2 linked regions of the Homo sapiens genome follow. The protein of the gene in region 2 purifies or fractionates together with the protein of the main gene of each other region. This does not show direct contact. Each region holds a gene or a part of one and is shown on either strand. Other genes may lie near its edges.

Region 1 (7,161 bases), on a different chromosome or scaffold from region 2:
ATAAACACACATCTAAGCATTGTTTGTCCCCTGGAATATCCTGGAATACAAAACCTCTATTATAAAACCAGATTCTGTTGCTATCTGAAGTATTTTCTTTCAGGCCAATTCCCTTGCCCTTTAGTTTTTAGCACAGTTAAATTAATTTTTATGTTAAATAATTAAATCATCGCCCAGGGAGTACATGCCTTCTAAGAGTGAATGTCCATATTATGTATGGAAATTAAGAGTGAATGTCCATATTATGGATGGAAATCCTGTTTTTGTCCCAGCGCTGAGTATAGGAGAGGCAAGATTGGACTCAGAATAAAGGACAAGAAAAATAGTTTTTCAGACTTTATTTTAAATGACAGCACGTTTGAAGTCAAGGGGACAATAGATAATGGGCACTTTGCTACAGTTAAAGAAAAAAGGGAACAGGAAAGGCATTTTATTCTAAATGATTATTTACAAACGCATTAAGAAACTAAAATTATTTTCCATAATGTCAGTGCCGTTTTCTTTTTCTTTCTTTCTTTTTTTTTGGGGGGGGTGGGGGTATGGAGTCTCGCTTTGTTGCCCAGGCTGGAGTGCACTGGCACAATCTCAGCTCCCTGCAACCTCTGCTGTCCACGTTCAAGAGATTCTCGTGTCTCAGCCTCCAGAGTAGCTGGGACTATAGGCACCCGCTGCCACATCCAGATAATTTTTGTATTTTTAGTAGAGATGGAGTTTCACCATGTTGGCAAGGCTGGTCTCGACCTCCTAACTTCAAATGATCTGCCCGCCTTGGCCTCCCAAAGTGCTGGGATTACATGCATGAGCCATTGCGCCCAGCCCAGTGGAGTTCTCTAGAAATACTTCTGCCAGAGATAATGAGAAACTTGACTGGCAACAGAGTTGTGTCTAAGGCTGAGCAATGGGCTGCCGGTGAGGGCCTGGTCCTGGGAAGATGGGCCACCGGGCATCTTCTGGCTTGGCCAGTGCTCAGCTCTGCCTCTCACACCACAGGGCCTGGACAGTGGTTTTTAAACCACCCATTTATCTTTCCAGATTTTCTGCTCACCCAATTAATTTTGGGGTCAGAGAAGGATGAAGAGAGACTGAAGATATCAATTTCTCCAAATAATAAGGACTCTGGGTGATCAAACACATGAGAGAATTCATGGAGAAAGGTTAGAACTGGAACAAAAATGTCCCAAATTGTTTCTTCAGTCATTGCTAGAGATTCAGAGAGACAATGCCAGAGAGACGGAGGCTAGGAAACAATTGTGGAACGCTATCTACAAACTTAGCAATGTCCAGTGAGAAATAGAGAAGCAGTACAAATACAGATGGTTTAAAACCTGGTGCTAAATGGCCACCAGGGCAAAACAAGGGCCATGAAACCTGGAATCACTGATGCAGGAAATTAGTCCCTCCCAGGCTCCCTGTTAATTCACGAATTCAAATAAATATTATAGATATTACAGATTTAATTCAGATCCTCTCATTTTCATAAGGCAGAATAAGTGGGAGATAAACTCTATCAGTTTCTCTGCAAAGAAAGAAAAAACTGAAACACATATCAAACACCCCAACCTCTCCACTGTATTCTAAAGGTCTGGCTTCTCTCCCACTCTCTCAAGGCAATAGCATGACTTGACACTTTCTAATTTTGTAGGAGTCACTAAGAATAAAGACAGGAGTTTGGACTGGCACAAAGGTTTAGAAGCCCACACAATCTCATTTATAATAGCACTCAAAAATAAAATTCTTAGAAGTAATTTTAACCAAAAAAGTGAAAGATCTGTACACTGAAAACTATAAATATTGATGAATAAAACTGAAGAAGACACAAATGAATGGAAAGATATCTTGAGTTCATGGATTGGAAGAATTAATATTATTAAAATGTCTACACTACCCAAAGTGATCTGTAGATCCCCATCAAAATTCCAATGCAATTTTTCACAGGAATTAAAAAAATACTAAAATTGGCATGAAATCAGAAATGACCCCGAATAGCCAAAGCAATCTTGAGCAAAAATAACAAAGATAGCGGCATCATGCTCTCTCATTTTAAAATGTATCATAAAGTTATTGGAAGCAAAACAGCATGGTCTGGTGTAAAAGCAGACACAATAACCAAAGGAAAGGAGTAGAAAGCCCAAAACTATACCCAGGGCTTTATGATTACTTGATCTTCAACAAAGATGCCAAGAACACACAATGGGGAAAGGACAGTCTTTTCACTAAAAGGTGTAAGGAAAACTAGATATCCACAAGCAGAAGAATGAAATTGGACACTTATCCCACACTATACACAAAACTCAACTCAAAATGGATTAAAGACTTACATAAAAGACCCGAAATTGTAAATCTACTAGAAGAAAACATGGAGGGAAATCTTTATGACATTTTTCTGGGCAATTATTTCTACAACAGGACTCCAAAAGCAAAGACAACAAAATCAAAAATAGACCAAGGAGGTTACATCAACTAAAAAACTTCTGCACAGAAAGGAAACAAAAAGATGATCCAGGGACTAGGAGAAAGTGTTTGCAAACCATATATCTGATAAGGGGCTAATATCCCAAAGATATAAGGAATTCAAACACTCAATAAGACGAAAACAAACATCTCAATTTAAAAAAGGGCAATAAACCTGGCCCACAGATATATGAAAAACACACTCGACATCACTAATTATCAGGGAAATGCAAATTAAAATCATAAAGAGGTAATCATCTGTTAGAATGGCTTTTAACAAGTAGACAAATAATACGTGTTGGTGAGGATATAAAAAAAAGGGGACCCTTGTAGGCCATTGGTGGAAATGTAAATTAGTGCAGCCATTTTGGAAAATAGTATGGCGGTTCCTCAAAGCACTGAACATAGAATTACCATATGACCCAGCAATCCCACTTCTGGGTATATCTCCCAAGAAATTGAAATCACTGTATCAAAGAAGAATCTGCACTCCCATGTCCATTTCAGCATTATTCAAAATAAGCAAGATATGGAATTAGCCTAAATGTTCATCAGTGGATGAATGAATAAAGAAAATATGGTATACATGCAAGATGGTATACCATATAGCCTTAAAAAAGAAGGAAATTGGCAGGGCGCGGTGGCTCACTCCTGTAATCCCAGCACTTTGGGTGGCCCAGGCGGGCGGATCACGAGGTCAGGAAATCGAGATCATCCTCGCTAACACAGTAAAACACCGTCTCTACTAAAAATACAAAAAAATTAGCCGAGCATGGTGGCGGGCGACTGTACTCCCAGCTACTCAGGAGGCTGAGGCAGGAGAAAGGCGTGAACCTGGGAGGCGGAGGTTGCAGTGAGCCGGGATCGCACCACTGCACTCCAGCCTGGGCGACAGCAAGACTCCGTCTCAAAAAAAAAAAAAAAAAAAAAAAAGAAGGAAATTCTTCATTCATGACAACATGGATGGAACCAAAGGACAATGTGCTAAACGAAATAAACCAGACACAGGAAGACAAATACTATATGATATCACTTACACATGGAATGTTAAAATGTCAGTTTTATGGAACTAGAGTACAAAGGTGGTCATCAGAAGCTGCAGGTGGGTGAGATAGGAAAAGAGAAGATGTTGAGCCAAGAGTACAAAGTTTCAGTTATGCTGGAGAGTCTTAGTGATCTATGGCACTGCACGGTGACCACAGTTAATAGTGATGTATTGTATCTTTCAAACTGCTAAAGGAATCAATTTGTAATTCTCCTTAAAAAATTAAGTTGGTGAGGTGATGGCTATCTTAATTAGCTTATGTGTTTCTCCCATGTGGATATCAATCCAAACGTCACATCATACCCTACAAATATACAGAAAATTATTTTTCAATGAATAAATAAATAAATTTGAAAAAAATTAAATGAGGAATTCAAATATAGAGACTCTCCAAGGGCCCACTGAGCCCCAAAGGATTTGGATCAAATATGGTGATATTATGGAAATATGTAGTAATATCTTAAAAATGTGTAAGATATAGTCTCTTTTTTTTTTTTTAAGAGAAAGGGGTCTCACTATGTTTTTAGGCTGGTATCGAACTCCTGGTCTCCAGTGATCCTCCCACCTCAGCCTCTCAAATAGCTAGAAATATAGGCATGTACCACCATGCTGGCTTAAGATGCATTCTTTGACACAGCAATTCTATTTCTATAAGTTTATCCATATAGGTAAGAGAACATATATACAAGATAATCACTGTAACTTTACTTATTACTGCAAAAGTTTAAAAATAACCAAATTGTAATAATTTTATAATATTTTATCAGTACAAAAAATAAGTGATGGCATATACAAACCCTGGGATAGTATAAGGCTATTAAAATTATAATAGCATTCCATGTATTTTGATATACAAAGTGCCAATGTTACAGGTGAAAAAAGCGAAGTGCAGAATACTATGTGTAACTGTTAATAGTGATGGTTTGCTGGGTCAGAACTGAAGGCCTGGGGGTAGAAATGAGAGCTCATGACTTCTACCTTTTGAATGTTGTTCCTTGTGCATGATTTACAATTTTCTAAAACTAAAAAAAAAATCTCAGAAAGGGGCTGTACGCACCTAAATTACTTTGATATTCCCCAAAGTGGAGAGAAGTACCCGCTACACATTTTATGTGATGCATTCAGATCACACCAACTCCTTGAACTAAATCCGAATTTTTATTTTAATCTGATAAACTTGGCCTACTATTTTACTGAACTCATTTCCCCTATAGCCTGATAAGGTCATTGACCTCTCCATACTGGCACCAGCGGGAGACTACTCACCTCGAGATCTCAAAAGCCTCCTACATGAGGTTAGTAATATCCCTGAATCCTGCAATGAATTAACTCTCTACTCCACTGAGTCCCAGGTCTGCCCCCAGAGAGTCATCCAGAGAGTACCAGGGACCATCTTCAGAAAACAAGAGGCATTTGATCCCCAAACTTCTTGAATGAAAGCGCTGTTGTTTTTCTTTTTTGAATATATAAAAGTAAATACTCAAGCAGATGGGAAACAGAACAGGATAGTAATACCCTTATCATCATTAACACCTTGGATCAAGAAGAGGCATTAAGCATACAGACTCACGCTTTGATGAAAGCTGGGAGAAAGAGGAGCATCAAAGGGATCTTGAGAACAAAGGCAGTCCTTCCCCTCCCAATCACATGCCCACCTCCTCTCACTGCAGCTTCTGTCTCAGGTCTTCTCCCAGCAGAGCTATAAATCCAGGCTGACTCCTCACTCCCCACATATCCACTCCTGCTCTCCCTCCTGCAGGTGACCCCAGCCATGAGGACCATCGCCATCCTTGCTGCCATTCTCCTGGTGGCCCTGCAGGCCCAGGCTGAGTCACTCCAGGAAAGAGCTGATGAGGCTACAACCCAGAAGCAGTCTGGGGAAGACAACCAGGACCTTGCTATCTCCTTTGCAGGAAATGGACTCTCTGCTCTTAGAACCTCAGGTAGGAGACATCAATCTTGCACATCTGCAAAATCTAGAAAAAAAGGATTGGAGAAAGGATCTGGAGTCAAGTGTGGAAAGGTCTACCTCACTTGAGTGACTTTACTTAATCTTCCTGGACCTTGATTTTCTCATCTATAAATTAATCAGTGAGAACCAAATAAATCTAAAAGATTTTCTTTTTTCTAAGACTTTCAGTTCCAAGATATTTCTGTGAAATTTGCTACTTTTAAGATAGAAAGAGCTACACTGACTAGTTCTTTGTAGATCTAAATGGGCAGACTTAGTTATATAGAGAGTGTTTTACTTTGTCCATTGGAAAAGCTTTTAGAACCTAGAGAGGAACCTATAGGTGTGTTTTGATGTAGGCTAATAGGCTTGATTAAATCTTTCTACAATACATCCTTAGATCAAAACATCATATTGTGTCTCATACATATACACAATTATTGTTTGTCAATTAAAACAAGTAAATATGTAAAATGTTAAAAAAAAAAAAAAAAAAAAAAAAAGGAGAGACAGAGAATGAAGAATTTGAATTTGGAAAGTCTTCAAAGACTCCTTGAGCACCAAAGTATTTGGTCCATGACATTAGCATGCACAATGCGGCATTTCAGAAACTGATTCAGGTGCTTTAGGGAGCCTTGTTAGGACCTGGAAATCACACATGGAGGTCAAGATTAGGCGTGTGGATGAAGCAGAATGAAGAGTAGGTAACCCTGAGGTTGAGAGGTATATTGTTGGACCAGGGAGCAGGTAATAAATACATCCTGGATAGACTCACATGGGGAAAAAAACTATGATCTTGCATGACTAACACATAGCTAGTAAGATTTCTTGTCACTTACGACAAAGACATGAATTTTCTCCATCCTAACATGACTGATACAGTGTCTCTTATTTAGACTATCTCAGTTAGTCTGGCTGTGCTTGTCCTTTTTCCCACCTCCCTCGCTGTGCCTGACCCTCTCTTCTTTCCACAGGTTCTCAGGCAAGAGCCACCTGCTATTGCCGAACCGGCCGTTGTGCTACCCGTGAGTCCCTCTCCGGGGTGTGTGAAATCAGTGGCCGCCTCTACAGACTCTGCTGTCGCTGAGCTTCCTAGATAGAAACCAAAGCAGTGCAAGATTCAGTTCAAGGTCCTGAAAAAAGAAAAACATTTTACTCTGTGTACCTTGTGTCTTTCTAAATTTCTCTCTCCAAAATAAAGTTCAAGCATTAAACTTAGTGTGTTTGACCTTTTTAATTTTCTTTTCTTTTTCCTTTTTTTTCTTTTGCTTTGTTATATGGTGGTTTGTATGGTTCCTTTGTATTGAGAATTCTGATCTACATTAAGTTAACTGGTCTTTGCATTCCAATGATGCACAATTTGAGCATCATAGAGCAATAACAAAATAACAAAAATGAATATAATTGGGTTTTTTATTGTTGTTGTTTGAGACAGTGTCTAACTTAGCCACCCAAGCTGGAGTACAGCGGTGCAATCTCGGCTCACTGCAGCCTTGACCTCCTGTGCTCAAATGATCCTCCCACCTCAGCCTCTTGAGTAGCTGGGACTACAGGCATGTGCCACCACACCCTACTAATGGTTTGTATTTTTTTGTAGAGACAGGGTTTCACCATATTGCCCAGGTTGGTCTCGAACCCCTGAGCTTAAGTGATCTGCTCTCCTCAGCCCCCCAAAGTGCTAGGATTACATGCTTGAGCCACCATTCCTGACAGG
Region 2 (7,043 bases):
CTGGGAGGCTGAGGCAGGTAGATCACTTGAAGTCAGGAGTTCAAGACCAGCTTGGCCAACATGATGAAACCCTGTCTCTAATAGAAATACAAAAATTAGCTGGGCGTGATGGTGTGTGCCTGTGATCCCAGCTACTCAGGAGGCTGAGGCAGGAGAATCACTTGAACCCGGGAGGCGGAGGTTGCAGTGAGCCGAGATCGCACCACTGCACTCCAGCCTGGGCGCTGGGCAACAGAACAAGAATTGGCCAACTTGCCTACCACTTATTAATAGTACCTCTAATAGGTGAGATTAGAAAAGGTGATGTGCCAAGATGAGGAGGTGGAGTTTTATCCAGACCTCATTTATCTGCATTCCTGTTCCTTCCCAGTCACACTGGGAAGTGAGCTCCCCTGCTCTTAGCATCAGACACATCCTGGAAAGTGTGGGGCAGTGTTGCGTAAACGGATTTTTCTTACAAGTGCTATGGTGACAGAAAGCAGCCTCCTCAGTCAGCACGGCCGGCATTTATCACACATGTGGCATGCGCGCGGCACCGTGCTAACTGGATGTCCTGAGGAATTTAAGCAGGTACGATAAATGCAGTGTATACTGTGGGAGCACTTAGGGGAAGGGACTGATTTGGTCAGAGATGTTAGGAAAGAGGAAGCACCTGGTGACAGCTTCCCAGAAAACACTGCATTGATTGTTAAAGGACAAAAGCAGTTACCAGCAAGCAGGGCTGGGAATTCCACTCAGATGGCACAACCCAAGCAAAGGCGCTGAGAGACCTTGGGGAAAACTGGGATCCACAAGTACTTGGGTTTAGATTTGTGCAAAGTATGACCTAAGGAATGGCCAACTAGGCTACAGAGGGAGGTGCAGCTGGGAAGCCCTTCCACATAAGACCGTGGCTGAAGAAGAGCCAGTGAAGGGTTTAATCATGGGAGGGTGTCACATGGTCAGATTTCTGTTTTAAAGTAAATTACTCTGGTGTCTGTGTGGAGGAAGGCTGGAAGGCTGAAGGTTTGCTGGCAGAAAGACCATTCAGGAAGGAGGGCTTTGCCAAGGCAGTCATCAAGGATGACTATTTTCCATTACTATATAATTTTTTAAATTCTTCAAGGGCTCACAGTTTGATTCACAAAGTTAAGAACTATGTGGGGGCAGGAGACTCCATTTATTTAATTCTAAAAGGGAGCTGCCTCAGAACCAGATGTGGGACTTAGTCGTTTGCACCATCTGCTGTGGGTATAAGCACCGCATACCTGTTTCATTTTCTTCCTCAAAAAGTTCTCCAGGATTGGCTGTATGTTACTCAAACAATAAAAGCACACAAGTCAACAAGTATCAGAGTGCCTACTTAGACAAAGCCAATGAATACATTACCATGGATGTTGCATAAGCCAATACATCAGGGTGGGTTTTGAGAAAAGTGTGCCATAAGCTGCTCTACAGCTTTAAATCACTTTAAAGGTCACTGATGGAATTTTTCAGTCGATCCTAATATAGATTTCACAGCAAGTACCCATTGCTGTAAGTGACAGTGAACCCAGGAAAGGCAGAGATCTGCTCACCAGCATAGACCAGACCACGTGAATGGGAAGGGGCTCAAAGCATGTATGAATAGGAGTCACCATCTGGGGGCCGGGCGCAGTGGCTCATGCCTGTATTCCCAGCACTTTCGGAGGCTGAGGTAGGCAGATCACCTGAGGTCAGGACTTAGAGGCCAGCCTGGACAACATGGCAAAACCCCGTCTCTGTTAAAAATACAAAAATTAGCCGGGGAATTTTGAGAGGGAATACTTGAGAGGCTGAGGCAGGAGTATCAAGCGATTCTCCTTGATTCTTAATTTCATTGAGCCGAGATTGTGCCACTGCACTCCAGCCTGGTCTCAAAAAAAAAAAAAGTCACCATCTGGCCTTTGGTTGGTTATCCACCAAGGATATTCTGGCATCATCAGGAAGAAAATATTCCTGTTGTCCTTTCTACAACCAAGATCCTGTGATCTAGATGGCAGGTATATTTAATGGCAGAACAAACTATCCCAGCAATAATAAAGGATGAGAACCACATGACTCTTTGGCTAGAGGCTTCTCTCTCTTTAAAAGAGTTGCCTGAACATCTTTGGCCTTAAGCAGACCACATCCTCTCTTAGATGGAATAGAGTTAAGAAATAGGCCCACACATATGGCTGACAGTTGATTTTCAACAAAGGTGCCAAAATAATTCACTGGATAAAGTATAATCCTGCAAATGGTATCTGCTATTGGATATCCATATGCAAAAAAGTGAATCTCGATCCTTACCTCATACCATACACAATAATCCAAAATGGATCATAGACCCAAAATGTAAGAGCTAAAGTATAACCTTCTGTAAGAAAACATAGGAGAAATTCTTTGTGCCCTTAAGCTAAGTAAAGACTTCTTGGCCAGGCACGGTGGCTCACGCCTGTAATCCCAGCATTTTGGGAGGCTGAGGCAGGCGGATCACCTGAGGTCGGGAGTTCAAGACCAGCCTGACCAACGTGGAGAAACCCCGTCTCTACTAAAAATACAAAATTAGCCGGGCGTGGTGGCGCATGCCTGTAATCTCAGCTACTCGGGAGGCTGAGGCAGGAGAATTGCTTGAACCCAGGAGGCAGAGGTTGCACCATTGCACTTCAGCCTGGGCAACAAAAGCAAAACTCCATCTCAAAAAAAAAAAAAAAAAAAAAGAAAGAAAGAAATTCTTAGGACACAAAAAGCATGAACCACAGCAGAAAACATTGAGTACACATATATCTGATAAAGGACTTACATCTAGGCTATACAAAGAACTCTTACAACTCAGTGAGAAGATAAAATTTAAATAGACAAAAATTTGAATAGACACTACATCAGAGAAGGCATACAAATGACAACTACATGAAAAGATGTTCAAAGCATTCATCATTAGGGAAATGTAAATTTAAACCAACCACAATGAGATACCACCACACTATCTAGAATGGCTACAACTAAAAAGAATGATAGGCCAGGCACGGTGGCTAATGTCTGTAATCCCAGCACTTTGGGAGGTCGAGGCGGGTGGATCACCTGAGGTCAAAAGTTCGAGACCAGCCTGGCCAACATGGCAAAACCCCGTCTCTACTGAAAATACAAAAAATTAGCCAGGCGTGGTAGCACACACCTGTAGTCCCAGCTACTTGGGAGGCTGAGGCAGGAGAATTGCTTGAACCCGAGAGGTAGAGGTTGTGGTGAGCCAGGATCGTGCCACTGCACTCCAGCCTGGGCAACACAGCGAGACTCCTTCTCAAAAAAATAAAAATAAAAAATGATAAAACTAAGGGTTGGCAGCATGTGGAAAAACTGGAGTCTTCATATGTTACTGCTGTGAATATAAAATGATACAGCCATTTTGGAATAGAGTTTAATAGTTTCTTTAAAAGTAAACATATACTGATTGTATGACCCAATAATTCCTTTCCTAGAGAAATGAAAACACATGTCCACACAAGATTTGTACACAAGTGTTCACAACCACTTACTCATAGCAGCCAGAAGCAATCCAAATGTCATCAATTGGTGAATGGATAAACAAAAACAATGGCATGTCCATAAAACTGAATATTGATCAGTAAGAATGATTAGCATGCAACATATGGAATAATCTCAAAAACATCATGCTAAGTGAAAGAAGTCACACATTAAAAAGTTCATAGTGGATGATTCCATTTATCCCATATTTCTAGAAAAGGCAAAACAGTAGCAACAGAAAGCAGATCAGTGGTTGACTGAGGTCTGCAGTAGGAACAGGAATTGACTGCAAAGAGGTACTAAGGTGATGGAAGTGTTCTAAGACTGGTGGTAATGGTTTATGTAAAAACTTACCATCATAAATCAAACTCCACAGCCAAAAACAGGTGAATCATATGACATGTAAACTATACATCAGTAAAGTTGGTAAAAACAAGTAACGAACTCCTAGGTACAATGAACCCTCCTTCCCACAGCACTACTTCCCACAGTGGTTTGTACAAACCAATTTCACTCTATTGTTTTTTAATGAGTTTACCTGTTATTTCTTCTCTGAAGGTGCTTAGGTTCTGCAGGGTGGGGCTCTGCTCTCCCTTATATAGAACAGATCCTATATTTTTCTTTGGGGACATTTTTTAAAGTTCTGAGAGAGAGAAGATGTTCATTTTGATGCTACTTTAAGCAAGCTTTCAGTCTATTTTTTTTTTTTTTTTTTTTTTTGAGATGGAGTCTCGCTTGTCACCCAGGCTGCAGTGCAGTGGCGCAGTCTCGCTCACTGCAAGCTCCACCTCCCGGGTTCACGCCATTCTCCTGCCTCAGCCTCCCGAGTAGCTGGGACTACAGGCGCTCGCCACCACGCCTGGCTAATTTTTTGTATTTTTTTAGTAGAGACGGGATTTCACTGTGTTAGCCAGGATGGTCTCGATCTCCTGATCTTGTGATCCACCCACCTCGGCCTCCCAAAGTGCTGGGATTACAGGCGTGAGCCACCGCGCCTGGTGCTTTCAGTCTATTTTTAACACATCTTAGGCAGAACTGAAGTAACTTTTTGTTTATTTTGTTTCATTAGGTTTTCAACCAGATGAAGAAATGAATGAAATCTGCAAGACTGAATTTCAAATGCGATTGCTATGGGGCAGCAAAGGTGCACAAGTCAATCAGACAGAGAGATATGAGAAATTCAACCAGATTTTAACTGCCCTCTCGCGTAAATTGGAACCTCCTCCTGTAAAGCAGGCAGAGCTTTGATAACTCTCCAGAGAACCTTTAGAATATCTTTTCAAGTTTCCCCAGCTTCATCTTTGGGAAAGCTTACTGTTTTTGATAAAGTAATAATGTGCAAATCTGACAATATACAAGCTTTTAGTATCCACAGGATATTAAACGTGTAAATTGCACAGAGCACACTTATTTATGAATTGTCTAAAGTTACTACTGATTTTAAAATGAATAATTTATTATTAAGGTAACTACTGCTAATGTTGATCAGCAAATTTAAGAGAAGACCTAGCTATGTTGGCTGGTTGCTTTCTATTATCATGGTATTTGACCATTTTAGTTTTAATTCCATGTCAGATAAGTGTAAATAGAAGAGTTTAAAAGCATGAAACATTTCAGAAGGTATCAGTTATATGATATTCTTTAAACAAATATGAAAAATGTAAATACTCATGAATGAAAATACATCTTTTTGTGAAACAGTTGTATCCAGTCTCTTTCATATTAAACAACTCATCTTGGTACAATAACTCTACCTCTTAGCTACCTCAAGCATGCTCTTCCCTAGGTACCGTATCCTGATAGTAAACCAAAATGAATGAAAGTGGTATGAAAAATTTAATGTTCCTGGATTAAAAGGCAGAGTGATTGATAGTGACACAAGGTAGAAACAGCTCGAGAGGACCTGGGTTCAAACTCAAGCTATGGTACTTGCTACCAGCTGGAGTTAGGCCAAGTTTACCTCATTGAATTCCATGTGCAGCATGGACACCCAGTATGATGAACATAACATCATCTCTTCACATATTTCAGAGTAATCAACTGTTTTACCTTTTCCTCTAGCTGATAAGTACAACAATGAGTTTCCTAGGTTGGCTTTCTAGGTTTCTCATTTTGCAAAGGGGATACTTTCTAGTTTCTTTCTAGTTTAGCAATATCCCTCTCAACTTTCCCTATTGTACAAAATTTGGAATATAAGACTTTAACGTATTCTGTTACTCTGCCATCAACTGTCAAACTTCTTTTAATAATCTGTTTTTCCTTCTTCTATTTTAAATAATATTAGGACCATACCAACTTTTATATTCATCTTAAACCGGCTGTGAAAATTTCTTCATGATGTTAAATAGCCTTTAAAAAATATGATTTATTGGTTACAGAAGTTACACTGTAACTTAACTATCACCCTATGATGGTTTTTAAAAATGTGCCACATTTTTTAAAAGGTGCCACGTTGTTATTTTTTGTTGAAAAAAACCAAAGCACATTTCTACTTCTGGCAATATGGTGGTTCAGATGTTCTTAGCCCTCTCACCATAACTAACTAAATCCTGAATACATTTTAATAAACATACCTTTTAGTGTATGATCAACCTTGATAGAAATCCCCAAGGAACAAACTTCTCTCCCCGCCGCACCTGAAAAAGGTACAGCACATTTGAATCAACTCCTCATGAGAACTTAAGAGCCGGGGCAGACCTAGAGGCAAAGAGTAACGTCAGCTCAGTGAATGAGAGTCTGTCTTGGGGGAACTTAAAATGCCTCCATTAAGCAGGAATCCTTAAAGGGTCCCTGTTAATGGAATAGAAAACATTCATCTGCCAGCAAAGGAAGGTTGCCAGGAAACATGACTGTCTTCACATACAGCTCCAGGAAGAAAACAATTATAATGACTATAGTGTTCAGTGAGGATTGGCAACCACACACCTGTCCTCATACAGGTCTGGAGTAAAAATTACAAAATCCAAAACCAAGAAATTGATTTACAGTGGTCCCAGGTTGGTGGTGTCTACCAGATATAAAAGCTTATTATTAAGCTATAGTAATTAAGGTTTCATCAGAAATTTAACATGACAGAGTGAAACTGTTGATAAATGGGGGAAATAATGACTTTAATTCTTGAACAATTGGTTAAGCAAATGAAAGGGGGAAAATGGCCTCTTACCTCTTATCATATACAGAAATAAAATCTGGATGAGTTAAGAACCTACATGTGAAAGGCAAAATCATAATACTTTTAGAAGAAAGTATCTTTTACTTTGAATCAAATAAGAATTTCTTAGAAAAAGCATTAATTATAAAATAATGATTAATCTGCATTAAAATGAATAAATTCCATTCAAAAGACATCATAGAGAACCTGAAAAATCAGAGATATTGACAACACATAAAATGGACAACAGAATACTATGGTTGGTAGGCAGCCTCCAAGATGGTCCCCAATGTTCTCTGCCTCCTGGTGCTCACACTCTGTGTTGTCCCTTCCTGCATTATACCAGGCTTTGTCTGTGCCACCAAGCACACAGGGCAGAAATGTTGCATCT

Evidence for each region.
Region 1: the proteins of BCAR3 (region 2) and DEFA5 purify together in Homo sapiens (affinity purification with mass spectrometry; 2 studies listed by BioGRID and IntAct, with this or other methods). This does not show direct contact.

The regions. Positions count from the first base shown.
Region 1 is NC_000008.11:7,054,804-7,061,964, reverse strand, and holds DEFA5 (defensin alpha 5 preproprotein), read left to right. Parts: upstream 1-5,225; 5' UTR 5,226-5,267; coding exon 5,268-5,439; intron 5,440-6,421; coding exon 6,422-6,534; 3' UTR 6,535-6,661; downstream 6,662-7,161. UniProt on the Homo sapiens protein: Host-defense peptide that maintains sterility in the urogenital system.
Region 2 is NC_000001.11:93,559,947-93,566,989, reverse strand, and holds the end of BCAR3 (breast cancer anti-estrogen resistance protein 3), read left to right. Parts: intron 1-4,570; coding exon 4,571-4,749; 3' UTR 4,750-5,249; downstream 5,250-7,043. UniProt on the Homo sapiens protein: Acts as an adapter protein downstream of several growth factor receptors to promote cell proliferation, migration, and redistribution of actin fibers.